2 linked regions of the Homo sapiens genome follow. The protein of the gene in region 1 interacts with the protein of each later gene in a pairwise test. Each region holds a gene or a part of one and is shown in the gene's direction. Other genes may lie near its edges.

Evidence for each region. The genes of interacting proteins can lie anywhere in the genome.
Region 2: the proteins of GRAMD4 (region 1) and MTMR9 interact in binary tests that used the Homo sapiens proteins (3 or more experiments, as listed by UniProt).

The regions. Positions count from the first base shown.
Region 1 is NC_000022.11:46,657,355-46,666,309, forward strand, and holds part of GRAMD4 (GRAM domain-containing protein 4), read left to right. Parts: intron 1-832; coding exon 833-953; intron 954-4,026; coding exon 4,027-4,088; intron 4,089-5,685; coding exon 5,686-5,818; intron 5,819-6,483; coding exon 6,484-6,509; intron 6,510-6,671; coding exon 6,672-6,763; intron 6,764-8,260; coding exon 8,261-8,352; intron 8,353-8,955. UniProt on the Homo sapiens protein: Plays a role as a mediator of E2F1-induced apoptosis in the absence of p53/TP53. Plays a role as a mediator of E2F1-induced apoptosis in the absence of p53/TP53. Inhibits TLR9 response to nucelic acids and regulates TLR9-mediated innate immune response.
Region 2 is NC_000008.11:11,315,816-11,322,815, forward strand, and holds part of MTMR9 (myotubularin-related protein 9), read left to right. Parts: intron 1-43; exon of another isoform or gene 44-857; coding exon 858-1,078; exon of another isoform or gene 1,079-3,871; coding exon 3,872-4,023; exon of another isoform or gene 4,024-5,785; intron 5,786-6,809; coding exon 6,810-6,973; 3' UTR 6,974-7,000. UniProt on the Homo sapiens protein: Acts as an adapter for myotubularin-related phosphatases. Increases lipid phosphatase MTMR6 catalytic activity, specifically towards phosphatidylinositol 3,5-bisphosphate and MTMR6 binding affinity for phosphorylated phosphatidylinositols.

The DNA.
Region 1 (8,955 bases):
TTAGGTGACCCAGCGGTGTTGGTTTTAGGAGGAAGAGGCAGGGATGGGGCAGAGGAAGCGGGAGAGAGGCCGGGTCCCCGTCTCTCCTGTCTTTAAGTGGTAGAAGTGTCCTGACTGCCAGAGGCTGCCTGCACTCCCTGGCTCCTGGCCCCTTCCATCCTCAGTCTTCCAGTCTCTCCGACCTCTGACCTCTGACCCTGCCTCCTCCCTCTGCCTGGATGCTCTTTCCCAGGGTCTGTGGCCTCGCTGTGTTCCCTCCAGGCCTTGACTCAGAACTCACCTTCTCCCGAGGCTTTCCCAGAGCAGCCCTGTGTCCAGCCTGCCCCGTGCTCTTCTCAGGCCCCCTGGCCAGCTTGAGCTGTGGGCTGTCCCCGCTGGCCCAGGGCCTTTGCTCTGCTGCCGACGCGTCCCAGAACCTCACCCAGCACATGGAGGCGCTGGGTGGGTGTGGTGGGCTGGCCAGGTGTGGTCAGCGTCCTTTCCGCAGGTGTCCTCAGCGTGGCGGTGCTTGGTGAAATGGCTTTTGTGTTCTGTGTTGCACTGTTATGAAGCATAGTGAGGAAATTCACACCCTTGCTTCACCCACCTCTTGCCCCAGTCATGTAAGAGGAGCCCCGTTACTAGCTCCTGCCCAGGAGGAAGGGCTGGATGGGGACCAGTTCATGTCCTGCTGTGAGCGCCCCGCACCCTGGAGGAAGGTCAGGTGCTCAGGTCCGCTTACGGAGCAGAGACCCCTCTGCTGTTTCTGAGTCAGGCACCCCTGCCCCAGCATCCCAGAGTCGGGGTCGCGTGGACATGAGCGATGGTCACCTGGCCGTTCTCTCCCCCATAGAGGAGGAGCTCCGGAAGCTGCGAGAAGAAACCAACGCGGAGATGCTGCGGCAGGAGCTGGACCGCGAGCGGCAGCGGCGGATGGAGCTGGAGCAGAAGGTGCAGGAGGTGCTGAAGGCCAGGTACCGCGCCTTCCTCGGGGCCCTGGCCTGTGTGCGGCTGCCCCAACCCCCCACCCCACCCGCCCCGCCGTCCTCTGCTGCACCCATAGCGTCTTGGCAGCATCATTCTTGGCCCTGGAGAGGCCTGAGTGTGAGGGTGGGCCCGGCTCTGACTGCCCAGGTATAGGTCCTGCCTGTGCCTGCATGAGCTGTGGTCTTGGGAATGTGTCATCTTCCTGTGCCTCTGGCGGTCTGGAAAAGGGTGCACAGGTGCTCCTGCCAGCCCCCAGGCCTGGGGCCAGGCCAACTGAAGAGAGGCTTGGCATGGGGCCTGCAGAGCCCCAGAGCCACCTCATGGCTCTGATCCCGGCCTGCTGGTGACCCCATTCTGTACATCCACCCAGTGCCCCACCCCGGGGGCCAGCCCGGCCTCTTAGGATCTTCCCAGGACCTGCCTTCCCAGTGCTGCCTGTGCGTGTTCCCATGCCCCCTGTCTGCCCCAGCCACGCTGTGGCCCCCGCCCCCCTGCCCCCATCCTAGCAGTATCATGTCCTGGGCGCCAGTGCCGCCCTGGCTCCTAGAGAGGCATGTCTGCACCTGACATCTTTGCTCTTGTTTGTGGGTCCCATGTGGGACCCTGAGTGCTCACAGTCTCCTCCCTCACCCTGCCCTGCGCCTCACAGTGCCGCCAGCAGGAAGCAGGTCATTCAGGACCCCAGCGCAAGTTACAAAGCCAGTGCCCTCCTGTCTCGCTAACACCACGAGGCTCCGTGTCCCTCTGCACAAGTTCAAACTGGTGCCTGGTACATGAGGCCAGGGAGCTCAGGCCACTCACCTCTGGCTCCCAGGCCTCCCGCTCAGCCTCCACTCCAGCAACCTCCTGCTTCGGCCTCCCTCTCAGCCTCCACTCCAGCAGCCTCCTGCTTCGGCCTCCCTCTCAGCCTCCACTCCCTCAGCCTCCCCCCTCAGTCTCCACCCTCAGTTTCTGCCCAGCCTCCCCCCAGCATCATCTTCAGCCTCCGTCCTCAGACTCCACTCCCTCAGCCTCCCCACTCAGGTTCCACTCAGCCTCCCTCCAGCCTCCACTTAGCCTCCCTCCAGGTCTCCCACCTCAGCCTCCCACCACCATTGGCCACACCTTTGTCTGTGGCCCCCATGACCTGCATGGATGGCTGTCACCAGTTAGGGAGGCACACGGCATCTCTGGGACACCCCAGCTGAGCACTGCCTGCTATGAGCGCTCCGGGGGCCGTGTGTCATTGTCAGGACTCCAAGTGTCGCTGCTTAGCTGGCCCTGAGGAAGCGGCTCCCTTCAGCACCCTCAGGTTTAGTGTGTGGGAAGACGGGGGATCCGCTGGGCTGACTCCCACTTCTTCCTTGCCCGCCTCCTGCAGGTCAGCATGACCTTGTGGAGTGCCCTGGGGGGCTCATGTGGGGGCTCATGTGGGGGCATCCAGCTGGTGTGGGGGAGGGAGAGGCCTCACTTTCCTATTCCGCCCTGGCAGAACCTCCCAGACCAGAAATGGGTGCATGGGCCTCGGCAGGCGCTTTACCTGATGCTGAACCTTCTGGGAAAATCCACAGAAGCTCAAAGCTTAAATTACATTTAATTATGTAGAGTTGCAACAGAGACCTGACCTGCCACGCTGGGAGATCCCAGGGACAGGTGCGGTCCCCAGGCATTTGGCCACAGTGCCATCCCCGCCACGGGACGCTGCTTCTCCCCCGGTGGCTAAGGTGGCCTGAGGCTGTCCCCGTGGCCCTGCTCCCTGTGTTCTGTTTCCCATCCTCTCACTCCCGCCAGCCCCACTCCAGGATCTGGTCCTCATCTTTTACCAAAGCCCCTTGGTGGCAGGTGTGCCCAGCCCGGGTCAGCTGTAAGAACGCAGGGAGCCCCATCTCGCACAGTCTCTGCCTTGGGAATGGGTGGGGAATGGGCAGTGAAGGAACATCCAGGCTGTGACCCAGGAAGTGGAAGCTGAAGGTCCTGGGAGCATTAAGGGCTCTCCCCTGCTTTACATGGGGGCGGCGCTTAGGAACCTTCTGGAAGCCTGAAGGAGGAGGGGTGAAGGAAGAGCAGTCCCAGGCAGAGTGACCTCCTCTTTCCTTGTCGTCCTGGTGCAGATCTGGGGTGGGTCTGGGTGGCTGTGGTCTGTCCAGGGTGGGTAGGTGTGTGAGGGCACACACAAACATGCAGACACATGTGCGCACACACTGCACACACACATACCACACACTCTGAAGCTGCAGGATTAAAGCACAGCAGTTCTGTTTATGCAAACCTCTATTTTGGTTTTTAAGAAAATTCTCAGAAAGTCACCTTGGTTTAAGGCTACTTGTCAGTAGGCAGAGATTCTCTCCATTGTGGATCCAAAGTCCCCTGAAAACCTCACTGTCTGCTTCCTGCCCGCTGCTTACCTGGCCGTGCCCTGTGTGCCCTGTGCTCCGCCCTCTGTTCTCTTCTCAGGGTTTACTCCTCCCCCAGCTTCCTCCCTCCCCACTCCCGCTTCCCAAGAGTTAGGAAGGTTAGGGGCGACCACACAGCACTTGGCCCGGTTCTGTGCTGCACCTGCTCACAGGCCTTGGCTGGAGGGGCTGGGTGTGGGACGGAAGCAGACCCTAGTGGCCGTCTAGTGCCCCTGCCCAGTCCAGGCAGGTCGCTGGAGTAGGCTGAGCTGGGAGCTGGGTACAGGCTGCTGACAGGTGGCACCCAGCCTGTGGCCTGGCTTGGTGCCTGATAAACACATGTGTGTTGATCAGTATCTTTTCATTAGCAGACGGGTTGGTGATATGAGAGTATTCTGAGTTTAATGATGTTGAAAGAAGCAAGTGTGCTAAAATGAATAGGAAAGGAAAGAGTGGTGAAAGATGCTGGTTGTTTAAAAACAAAACGTGTGCCTGTTAGGAAGGCAGCTCTGTGCTTGCCTGGATACGCTCGGAACCAGCATTTCAGCAGTGGAGACTCTGGAGAGAGCCCTGCTGTCCCTGACCTCTCCTGTGCAGTACACGGTCGCGAGAGCCCTCGGGGGTGCCTGACTGGGCATGGAGTTTGGAACTAACAGACCTCTTGTCTCTTCTCTCCCTGCTTTTTAAGAACCGAGGAGCAGATGGCTCAGCAGCCCCCAAAAGGGCAGGCCCAGGCCAGCAATGGAGCAGGTACACCCTGGTGGGCGGGTGGACAGGCAGGCGGGCGGGTGGGTGGCTGCGCGTCACCTGCTGGTTCTGTAGGCCCAGGTTAACAATGGAGCAGATACCCCCTCCCCCAGCAGGTGGGCAGGCGGCAGGTGCTGGTTCTGTGCCCAGGCACCTGCTGGCATCCGGGAATCTCCTCCCGTCAGAACTGGGTTAGTGTCTCTGATGCGAAGTGGTGAGTCATCATAGTCGTCATCACAAATTTCCAGTCACTCAACTAAAGCGTGATTGTGTGTTCTTTGGGGAATACACACGTACTCTGTTTCAGCCTTGCCCCACGGAACAGTGATGTGAGAGCCACGCTGGTCACTGCCGCTGCCCTGGTGCCTCCCCGAAGGGGACCAAGTGGGCAGTGGGGCTATGGTTGGCTGTGAGTGGGGAGTTGGGGGTTCATGTGCCCTTTTATCTCTCTCCTCGTCCTCCATCCCTGAGTGCCTGTTCTTTATCTTGCCCCACGCCCTGCAGGCAGCCGGCATAGTTCCCTGTACCTGGGGGTCAGCAAACTCCAGCCCCCGCCTGGCTTCACAGATTTAAATGGTTTCATTTCATGACATGAGAACGTAATATAAACCTGAAATTTCAGTCCATAAATAAAGTCCATGGGAACACAGCCGGGCCGGTTCACTTACGGCTGGGACGAGTGTGCCGATCTCACCTGGACCCTCCCCTTAAAAACTCTGCCAGGCTGCCTTGGGGGCGGGAAGAAGCCGCAGGAGCCTGCCCTGGCCCCATCCTCCCTGCCCGGGTGGCCTTGGGGTACACAGACCTCAGCCCCCTTGGCCTGTGGCTCTTGAGCCTCTGCCCTGAGCCTGCAGCCCCCTGGGTATGGTGACCACAGGCCCTCTGGTCCCAGGGCCCAAAACTTTGGCGAGGCAGCACCCGCTGCAGGCGGCTCCTCACTGGCCTTCTGAAGGGAGGGACTGGCTTGCACCCCTGAGCCCCCCTTCCGAGGGATTCTTCCGGTTTCCCGCCGTGGAGGCTGCTTTCCAGAGGTGTTCGCTTTTGGTAAACATTGCTGGTCATCAGCACGACAACACCGTGCGCTCACCCTGGGCTGGCTGCGCTCGCCAGGCACCCCCAGCCCAGGACACAGCCTCCCGCTGCGCCATCCATTGGCTGATGCTCAGGATATGCAGGGCTGGGGCAGTGACCTCTCCATCTGCTTTCTGACAACCCGGAGGTAGAAAGGGGGTTTGATGCAGACGTCTGAGGTGGGCCGAGCAGCCTGGATGGACAGGCTGCCCGCTGACGAGAGCCCAGGGCGGGCAGAGAGCTGGGGACAGGGATGAAAAGCAGAGAGACCCGGCACTGAGGTCGTCATGGCTGGGGCAGCTCTGCTGTGTGCCGGTTGGTTTGCACTTGGTGTCTTCAGAGGACTGAGCCCTTCAAAGTCCCTTGTACAGGGACCCTTCATTTCCCTGACCTACCCCCGAGCATTCCTTGTGCCTCTGCTGGCCGCGCCCTTGCAGTGAGGCCCCTCCCTGCCCTGAGATCCCGGAGCCGACCCCAGAACAGGCAGTGCAGCCCTGCCGTGCCCTCACCGGGTCCCTGCCCCCTGCAGAGCGCCGGAGCCAGGGGCTGTCCTCGCGCCTGCAGAAGTGGTTCTACGAGCGGTTTGGGGAGTACGTGGAGGACTTCCGGTTCCAGCCCGAGGAGAACACTGTGGAGACAGAGGAACCCCTGAGCGCCCGCAGGTAGGGGTTCGCCGAGCTGGGGCTGCCTGTGCGTTAGGGGCCCCGGTCCCTGGGCTGAGGCTGCAGCGGGTGGGCCATCCTTTATCACCGTGGGCCAAAGCTGTCTGTGAGGCTGCCGAGAGCTCCTGGAGGCTCCGCTGTGTCTGGTCTTCTGGGGGCCGTGCCTGGCAGGGGCTTGCGAGGCCCGCTTAGGTGCAGCAGAGCTGCATGCGCGCACTGCTCTCAGCTGTGGCTTGTGACAGTTGTGTGGGGACTCATGGGGCTCAGCCCACTGCCTGGGGCCTTCCTTGGCTCTTGAGTCCCATCAGTAAACCTTGGTTCCCCTGCCAGGTGCTGCCATAGGCCCTGGGGGTCCCGAGGGAGCTAGGTCAGCAAAGGCCCTGCCCTTGAGGACTTCTGTTCTGGGGACACAGGCAGGAGATGAGGGGACGATTTCATTGGCGAGTCGCCCCTGCCTTCCTAACTTGGGGAGTGGCACTGAGGGCCATCCCGGCGCACCCTGCTGTGCTGAGCCGCCGTGCATGGCCATTCTGTGCACTCAAGGGGTCCCAGGCTGTTGAGACGTCCTCCCTGGCCCCTGCAGAGCCAACGGAACCGGGCAGTGGGGACTGCAGAGCCGGCGGGTGCATTAACCCTGGGCTCCCATCTCTCCCCTTCTCTCTTAGGTTAACTGAAAATATGAGACGGCTCAGTGAGTACCAGCGGCTCTGCGTGGCGCCCACGATGCTCAGTGTGGGTGGGGCCCATGGCGGTGGGGACTCTGGGATTCTGAGCTGAACCGACTCTCCAGGGAGACGTGGTTAAGCGGCCTCCTACCCACAGTGCTGACCACTGTGGTCTGCTCTGTCCCCAGAGCGCGGTGCCAAGCCGGTCACTAACTTTGTGAAGAACCTCTCTGCCTTATCCGACTGGTACTCCGTCTACACGTCTGCCATTGCCTTCACCGTGAGTGGGTCCTCCAGGGGCCGAGCAGGGTGGGTGGGATGTGCCTGCCAGCATTCACCACATGATCAGGCACCTTCCCAGGGTGGGAGGTGGCCCCCAGGTGGCACTTCCTCAGGCCCCAGGGACATGCTCATTTCTCCTTCTGTAAAGTGGGCTCACTGATGCCAGTGCCCAGCCATGGGGTGGCTTCAAGGATCAAAGATGTTGGGCGTGGCCCGGGGCTAGCCTGCAGGGCTCCCTGGACAGGGATGTGGTGCAGCCTTGTCCCCCAGGGTGCCCTTGGGAAAGGCCTCTTGGCACTCACCGTGCAGTGCGGTGGCCACGCTGCTGAGGTCCACAGAGTACCTGGTGCTGGGGCCAGGAGTACCTCCAAGGGCATGGCAGCACGAGGGGCCCAGCCCAGCCCCTGTGAGCCATGAGTCCTGAGGGATTGGAGGGTGCCAGGGCCCACATTGCCAGGGCCTTGGGGAAAAGGTGCCCAGCCGTCCTGCCTGGAACTGCCCTGCAGCGGCTGCCCCAGCGGGACAGGAGACTTGCCACCTGTGTCTCAGTACTTGGTCCTCGGGGGGAGCCCCCTCACCCAGGATGGAGACTGTGCCTCCAGCACGAGGAAGATGCAGGCAGCCCACCTGCTTGCTAGGGCCTCCAGGCCAGAGAGGAGGCGTCCACAGCCTGGCACTGTCCAGGGCTCCCAAAGGCAGCACTGCCCTGCTGAGCGGGCCCCTTGGGAGAGGTCCCCAGATGACCTCAGCCTGGGTCAGGCTCTCCAGGAAAGTCCCTGAAGCCTGTGGCCCTGTGCCTGCTGCGGGCACTTACCACTCACCTGGGACATGGGCACTTTGTTCACTCACAGATGAAGGCTGGGTGCTGGGACCACCGGCTTCACCCTGGCCCTGGAAGGCCTCTTCTCCTGCCACCCTCACAAATGCTTTGCGACAGGAGGCCTTTGCTGCCTGGGCTCCCACACGCTCCTGTGCCATGTCTGTTGTCACTAAGAGATGAGCCCAAGCTTTGAACCTGCCTTCCAGGCCTCACCTCCATCCCCTGCCCTGTGCACATCTGCTCTGCGTCCCGGGCTCTGTGCTGGGCACAGATGGTGCCTGGCATGAAGGTGGCCCCGGGCATGCACCTGGCTCGCCCTCAGCAGTGCTTGCCTGCCTCGCCCAGCCAGGCTGAGTCCTGGTGATGCCCCAAGTCTGGTGCGTGGGAGCCACACCGGGGCAGGCAGGACCCGCATGTGGAACCAGCCGCCCTCTTCTGTCCCCAGGACACGCTTCTCCCTAGGTGTCTCCTGGCTTCCACCGGCGGCTCTTAAACCGGGGAAGCAGCCCTTCCTCCGGCTTCCCCATCAGACGCACCCTCATCCCTGAGTGTCTGGAGAGCCAGCGGGTGGCCTGGTCTCCCCACTGGGGCCGCCTGGTGGGGGGAGGCGGGAGGGATGTGCCTTGTCCTGATCCAAGCTGTCAGGAGGTCTGACGCCCTGTCTCTCACCCGCAGGTGTACATGAATGCCGTGTGGCATGGCTGGGCCATCCCATTGTTCTTATTTCTAGCAATTCTGAGGTTATCCCTCAATTACCTCATCGCCAGGTAGGTGAGCCGGTTTGTTGCAGCTGCTTTATCCCACCGCATGTATGGCTGTGCTGTCTCCCTGCGTCTCACAACCGTGACCCCAGCTGGGTATGTCATGCACTGACGTTTTGGGGGTGGTCCCCTGACAGGCTCCAGAGACCCCCCAGGCAGGGCGGCTGCCCCCTCCCTGGTTTGCTAGAGATGGCAGTGGGAAGTTCCCAAATCCCCCAGCAGCTCCTTCCCCGGGCGGCCAGCAGAGCCAGGGCCGTTCCAGCACCTGCCCGAACATCGCAGGGGGCTTCTCCCCAACATCAGTGGGTAGGTGGGTGAAGCAAACAGGGCTCCACGCCCCGGAAGGTTCCTGCTGGCTGCCTGTTGGAGATGAGCCTGCTGGGGAGGAGCTGGACCGGGAATGAGTACCAGTCGCCTGCAGACAGCACGCCCGTGTGACTGACGCGTTAACCCCAACCCTGGCCTGAGTCAGGGCTCTCGTGTCACCCCTTATGCCCCCTCTGAGCACCCCCTCCCTGTGGAGGCTGAGGGGGGCTCTGGGAAGCCCATGCCCTGGGGTGGACCCCTAGTCCCTGCACTCCTGGGTCCTTCTTAGCCTGCGGTTACCCC
Region 2 (7,000 bases), on another chromosome or scaffold:
TTCCTCATGATGCATAGTAGACAAACAAATGAGTATGACTGACTGATTTTTATGTTATTTTAATGGATATCACAATTCTGTGAACCACTGTAAAATTTCTATGTCATTACCTTTGTCACATACAGTAGTAGAAGGACCCAGAGACAAAGCAGATCTGTGAAATTCCTAGCAGAGTATGATTTGTATTAAGGTCAGCATTTGGGTTCTGAACAAGACAGTCAAATGAGTCTTAAATTTACTTTGGTCAGTAGATGGCAGACTCTTGCTGTTCATTTTGGGAGAAGAGGGTAATTAATGACAGCTTTATCTCCTGTAGAAAAGTACTCATAAAGATCTTTCAACACAATAACTTTTCGTATATAATTAGAGATTTACTATCAGAGCTGACATTATAAAGGTGATCAGAGTTCCATATCTGTCTCCACTTAGGGTGAGGCTTGTTTAGTGTACAGCACAATCTACAGTGTTAGACAGAGGTGATGATTCTTCTTTGTACTGAGAGCTTATGTTCTTTGACTTTGCTCCAGGTTTTGTAGACCTAGAAAGGTTTATTTTGTAAGTTTATTATTGCTTAAGTTCATTATTCTTCCATGGGATATTCCAAGGGCAGTGCAGTTCCTGTGGTCACACCTTAGCCGCGCAGCCTCATTAAGGATTTGGAAGTGTGTCTTTTTCCTTAGTTGCTGCCGCTATTTATTTTATACCAAGAAATCATTAATCTGTACAACAGCTACCCTAATTATATGATGTTCCAGGTACTAGGAGTGTCACTGTAATTGTGTATAGTGGTGTCGGTAGAATGCTCTGTCATGTGATCTCACCAGGATATGACTGTCACGCCTCCATCTTCCCCCTAGGCTGGTCACCCATTCCAGCAGCGCTGTGCACAGTCAGCCTACTGTAACACCAAGCAGAAGTGGGAGGCTCCTGTATTTCTTCTCTTCTTGGACTGCGTGTGGCAGATCCTTCGTCAGTTTCCCTGTTCTTTTGAGTTTAATGAGAATTTCCTCATCATGCTCTTTGAGCATGCTTATGCCTCACAGTTTGGAACATTTCTGGGCAACAATGAAAGTGAAAGGTGAGTACACTGCTCACATGGGGACCTTTCCTTTTCCGTTGTTTTGGCTACTTCCTAAGTAGCCAGAATCTCCTAGGAGACGACGATTTGGATCTATATTAAAATTATTTATAAAAAGGTAGAGGCTACAGTTAATTATAATTTAAATGACCTGAAGTATATTCTTTTATGAGAGCATGTCCTAGACTTTGTTCTGTTAGGTTAAAATTAGTCCATACGTGAATTAAGGGGCAACCATTTTAAATGTTAATTTCTTAACATAGGATCATAGTATCTTACATGTGGAAAAAGCCTTAATTTATAATTCAGGTCTTCCCTCTAATTTTATTAAGAAAGTAAGATCCAGAGAAGTTACGTGACTTTTCCCAGGACATAGAGTCAGTTGGTCATCAAAAGTGTGGCCTAGAGCAGCGATCCCCAACCATTTTGGCACCAGGGACCAGTTTTGTGGATAACAACTTTTCTTTGGATTGGGTGGCAGCGGGATTGGTGATGGTTTTGGGGTGAAACTGTTCCATGTCAGATCATCAGGCATTAGATTCTCATAAGGAGAATTCTCATAAAGGCGCACCCTAGATTCCCCACATGCGCAGCTCACAGTAGGGTTTGCGCTTCTCTGAGAATCTGATGCTGATCTGACAGGAGGTGGAAATACGCGCTCATCTGCCACTCACCTCCTGCTGTGTGGCCAGTTCCTAACAGGCCACGGACCCTTACTGGTCCATGGCCTGGGGTTTGGGGATCCCTGGCCTAAATTACAGGTCTTCCTCCTCCTGCTCCAGACTTTGTTACACCTAGAAACTGTCCTCAGGCCCAGAGTGGCAAGCTCACCTTACAGCCCAGGCACCATCAAGTGTATAGGTTCATTTACAAGATTCACATCAGAATGATCTTTCAGGGAGGTTGCCTGGTAATCTCTTCAGGGTACAATCAGCAGCCTTCCTTGCCTCATTGCTGGCAGCCACCATTTTCTGAAGCATGTGTTGCTTAGCCCTGGACTGTACTCTGGCAGGGAGGGACAGGAGGGATTGGCAATTTCTATAGCCAAGGAAGTTTGGTGAATATGACATAATATCCTCCCCACTTAGAGGGGAGGATTAACTCCCCCACTTAGAAGGGAGGATTTAATGATTAACGCATAATCATTAAAGGCTTTAAGACACTCTTCAGTAAAGCAATGTATATAAGTTTAATTCAGCATTTAAGAAATGTGTTTGATGATGAATTTTTTTTGGTGTTATACCTGTTAATATCCTCAGGACTAGCTTTCAAGAAGGGATCAAAATAGATTCCCATTCTGTTTCCCAGTTGGTAGAGGCTGCCAGCAATGCTGATGGGAAGGATTCTGAAGTGGTGTCAGGCTCAGCCAGAGCAAGTTCAGTGGTTGGCCGGCCATGGGCAGGGGGCACAGGGCTGGAGGCAGTGGATGCAATAATGTCCTGTCCTTGTCATCCCTGGTTCCTGGGAACATAGCGTGGGACATGCTATCCCAGCAGTTAAAGTCCAATGCCACATAGGCTCTATGATTATGTGGATTATTTTTATTGCTAGCTCAAAAAGAATGCAGTAAGTTGCACGTAGCTCATAAATAATCATGTGGTTTCAGAGACAAAACTGATTTTATAATAAAATCTCAGCTTAAACTGAGTCTTATGAGAATTGAATGTATTATCTTTTTGGTTGATGTAAGGTTTACCACAGACTGTCTTTCAATCTGTGTTAAAATGTATTTTTTTCTAAAACATGCCGATCGACTGTTATCCTTCTCTAACAGTTTATTCACATGATAAAGAGTGTTCCAGAGTTTTAGAATTATTATGAAGCCTGTTCATTGTATGTGGATATAGATTAAATATGTATTTATGTCAAGATTCACATTGATTTTTCATCTTTGACAATCTGTATTTTATGTACATGTAAGTTATTTTCCCTAAAAGCTAAGTCTCTAAAAAATTTTAAGTTTTGTTTGAGATTTGACTCAACCTCCACTTTTAATATTAGTATGGGCGTAAGAAGGATACAGTGGACTTTGGGGACTTGGGGGAGGGACAGAAGGGGGACGAGGGATAAAAGACTACAATTAGGGTTCATTGTATACTGCTCGGATGATGGGTGCACCAGAATCTCACAAATCGCCACTACAGAACTTACTCATGTAACCAAATACCACCTGTTCCCCAATAACTTATGGAAAAATTAAAATAAAAAATTAAAAAAAAAAACAATTAGAAAGTGGTTATCAAACAATGTAAATAATGAAGACCCTGGGGGTCTTTCCAGACATTCATATTTGTAAGCTATCCTGGTTGTTTCTGCACAACAAGCCCTTTCTTAAAGAAACTAGAAAAATAAATAGGACATAAATGTCAAAAAGTGTATAATTTTTATGTTTATATTATAGGCTTCTCAGAAACAAAAAGGTTAGAAAGTTTTTTTATGCTTAGCTATTTTTAATTAAAATAGAATCCCAAATATAACAAAGGACTTTTGTGTACAGTAATGTTCTCTGGGTTAAGGTTTAACACCAAACCTGATGTGACCAGATTCTGTTTTTATCCTCCTGCCAGCTTCTTGGAAGCCTGTAAAATACTCTTTGTTTTGTTGTTGTTGAGAGTTCTAATGCCGATTGAGCTTTTTGACAAATCTATTGATTTTTCAACACTTTGTTTCTCTACCAAAAGTCTTGTATTCTATCTTCTTTCATACTGAGAAGAAATTGTCCTCGTAAGAGGAGCACTCAATAATGGTTGTTATAAATTAATTACTTTAATGGCAGTGTTCTTTCTTGATCAGATGTAAGTTGAAGCTACAGCAGAAGACGATGTCTTTGTGGTCCTGGGTTAATCAGCCCAGTGAGCTGAGTAAATTCACCAATCCCCTCTTTGAAGCCAACAACCTTGTCATCTGGCCTTCAGTTGCTCCGCAGAGTCTTCCACTGTGGGAAGGTAAACCACGCATCCTTTGCAAACTTCTTAACGGTCAGGTGTGCATGCGGCTGCCTGTGAGTGTGTGCTGTTGGTGATGTATGAAGATGGTGAGCTGGACGTGGCCCTCAGACCTGTGTGAATTGTCATTCTCAGTGTGGGCATGTTTTTCTCTTTCAAATCAGTTATCTAGCCACACTTTTTTTTTTTTTCAGTTACCATTGAGAAATTAACAGTGTTTCTTTACATTGCTGTTTATGTTGGATATTTTTCTAGATAAGAAAGTACCTTACTCTTTGCCTAAGAGAGTTGGTAAGTAGTTGGGACATGAATAAATTGTAAGCTCATCAGGGAGAGTTTCTGTCCCTTAATGAAGCAGTCATTAGGATAGGTTCTTGTATTAAATGGTATTAAAGAGTTACATGGCTGGGCATTCCAGTAAGTTTCTATAAATGGGCACAAAATACCATCAGTGCAGTAACACAGATATTTCATTGTTCTTATGGGACTATATGCTTAATTTTTAAATCTATTCTAAAGTAGATTTTTTATATGCACTGATTTTTCCAACTATTGAAGCTTATCCCCTTAAGTATGGAAGCTTATTAATTAAAACATAACCAAAATCTGGCCAGGTGTGGTGGCTCACGCCTGTAATCCCAGCACATTGGGAGGCTCAGGTGAGTGGATCACTTGAGGTCAGAAGTTCAAGACCAGGCTGGCCAACATGGTGAAACCCCATCTCTACTGAAAATACAAAAATTAAACAGGCCAATTTGGTGGTGCGGGTCTGTAGCCCCAGCTACTCAGGAGGCTGAGGCAGGAGAATCACTTGAATCTGGGAGGCAAAGGTTGCAGTGAGCAGAGATGATGCTACTGCACTTTAGCCAGGGTGACACAACGAGACTTTCTCAAAAAGATAAAAATAAAGATAAAAATAACCAAAATCTATCTGAACTATATAGTGTTTCATTAAACAAAGCCTCTAAAATACCATTTAATTTTTAAAGTTATTTTGAAGATAATAAGCACACATTTATTCATGTTTATGTTTAATAGCATAAAGTATACATACAAGAATGGTAGCTGTTTGTTAAATTAAACCGAATTACCGTTAATGCCAGTTGTTACGCCGTATTCTAGTATGTTATACTCTCAAAGGCAGTTCACGTGTGGAAAACTATTTGCCCTTTGTGGAAACGGGTCTCAGATTGCTTTGGCTTCTGAGTCTGAGACCAAATCAGTTTCTGTCTCTTCTCTGGATGTCAGCTGTCACATCTAGTTCCTCTTGGCTTATCTGCCATTAGTGGCTTCCTTCCACCTCAGTTCATGCTTCTAATCTTATCTATTGAAGTGTCCCCTAGTTAGCATTGTGGGGAAATGGTCTTAGATGGTCTTGAGGTTCTGGGTGTGAGCTTTAGTGCTTTGATTTGTGAAGGGATGGTGACTGCTCAGAACTTCTCTTTGCTTACTTTCGTGATTGTCGTCACAGTCAGTACAGGGTTCATGATCTCTTAAACGAGAGGTTACAGTATTCTTCCTGTTTAGGACTTCTGGGACAATGTACTTAAAGCCACTGTCACATTTAATAACTGAAATGAGCGTAGCTGTTTGGGAGAAAACCCACATTGGGAGCTGGGTGGCCTGAAGGATGATTTAATTGCTTTGTACCAAACCTCCTTGTGGAGCTTAGAGATAAGTGATGGGATGAAATCCTTGTTCTGTGGATTAAGTCCTGCCATGCCGGAGTTTCAGTGTGTGTTTCATGCTCCTCAACCTAGAGCTGGGAGAAGAAGAAGCTCTCTATTAGGTAAAATCCTATGGTAGGCATCTATATTGAATAAGACTGCTCTTCGGCCTTAAAATATCTCTCTGCTGTTTACATTTACATCACAGCTAACCATTAATATTTAGAAATTCCTGAATTAGAAAAATCAACATGGGTGGGTCAGGCTTTACGCTGTGGTTCTGCTTTCCCTTTCTGATACAGCCTGATGTTGGGAGCTGCATAGAAGGGCTCATTAGGACCCATGGCAGTTTGGTTTGTAGAGAGTGTTTTAATGAATCATAAAACCTTTGTGAACTTGCCATCCACTGACATGGTGCAGCCTGGAAGATTTTCGTGCCTCCTGACTTGAGTAACTGTAAGGCATTATTGTGGTGTGATACAGTTAACATAGGGCTATGGAGAGGAGAAAATATTTCCTTTTGGTTCATAATAAAAGGATAATTATTATTATTTGGGGAAAGAAGAAATTGCCTGCAGAATTGAAAGATTGCCTCTCAAGTAACAGGGAGAGAGGCATGTAAGCACGTGGGCTACAGTTCAGGCTTTCAAATAACAACATATGTGGTTCTGCTTTTACTGTAGTTGTCACTTTTCAGGTGAAAATGGCTTCACACATTTAAGGGATCTTACATGTCTGAGCAATATTCTATAATTATAAAAATAAGTGATTTATATTGTGAAATTGGAAAGTTTATGACATTGCAAATTATCATCTTGTTTTCCTGAATATATCATAAAATGGTATTTGGATCTATTTGATAATTTTGTGGGATATTTCTGAAGAATCAATGAGCATGTACATACAAGTAGTGACTTCTCAAATATTGTATTCAATTGCATCCTTTTCAGTACCTCAAGATTCCTGTATATTTTAGAGTATAATAAAATACAGATGTGAGTTGTGGCAACAAAAGAAAAAAGAATGTATAATACATAAATTACATCTTATCCACAAATGTAATTTTAATCCATTGTATATACCTTTCTTGCTTCTGTTTTCCATTCCTGGATTCAATAGGTATTTTCCTACGTTGGAATAGATCCTCTAAGTATTTGGATGAAGCATATGAAGAAATGGTTAACATCATTGAATATAATAAAGAATTACAAGCAAAAGTCAATATCCTTCGAAGGCAGTTGGCAGAACTGGAAACAGAGGACGGGATGCAGGAGAGTCCCTGAAAGGTCTCCTCGCACCCTTCGCAAGGA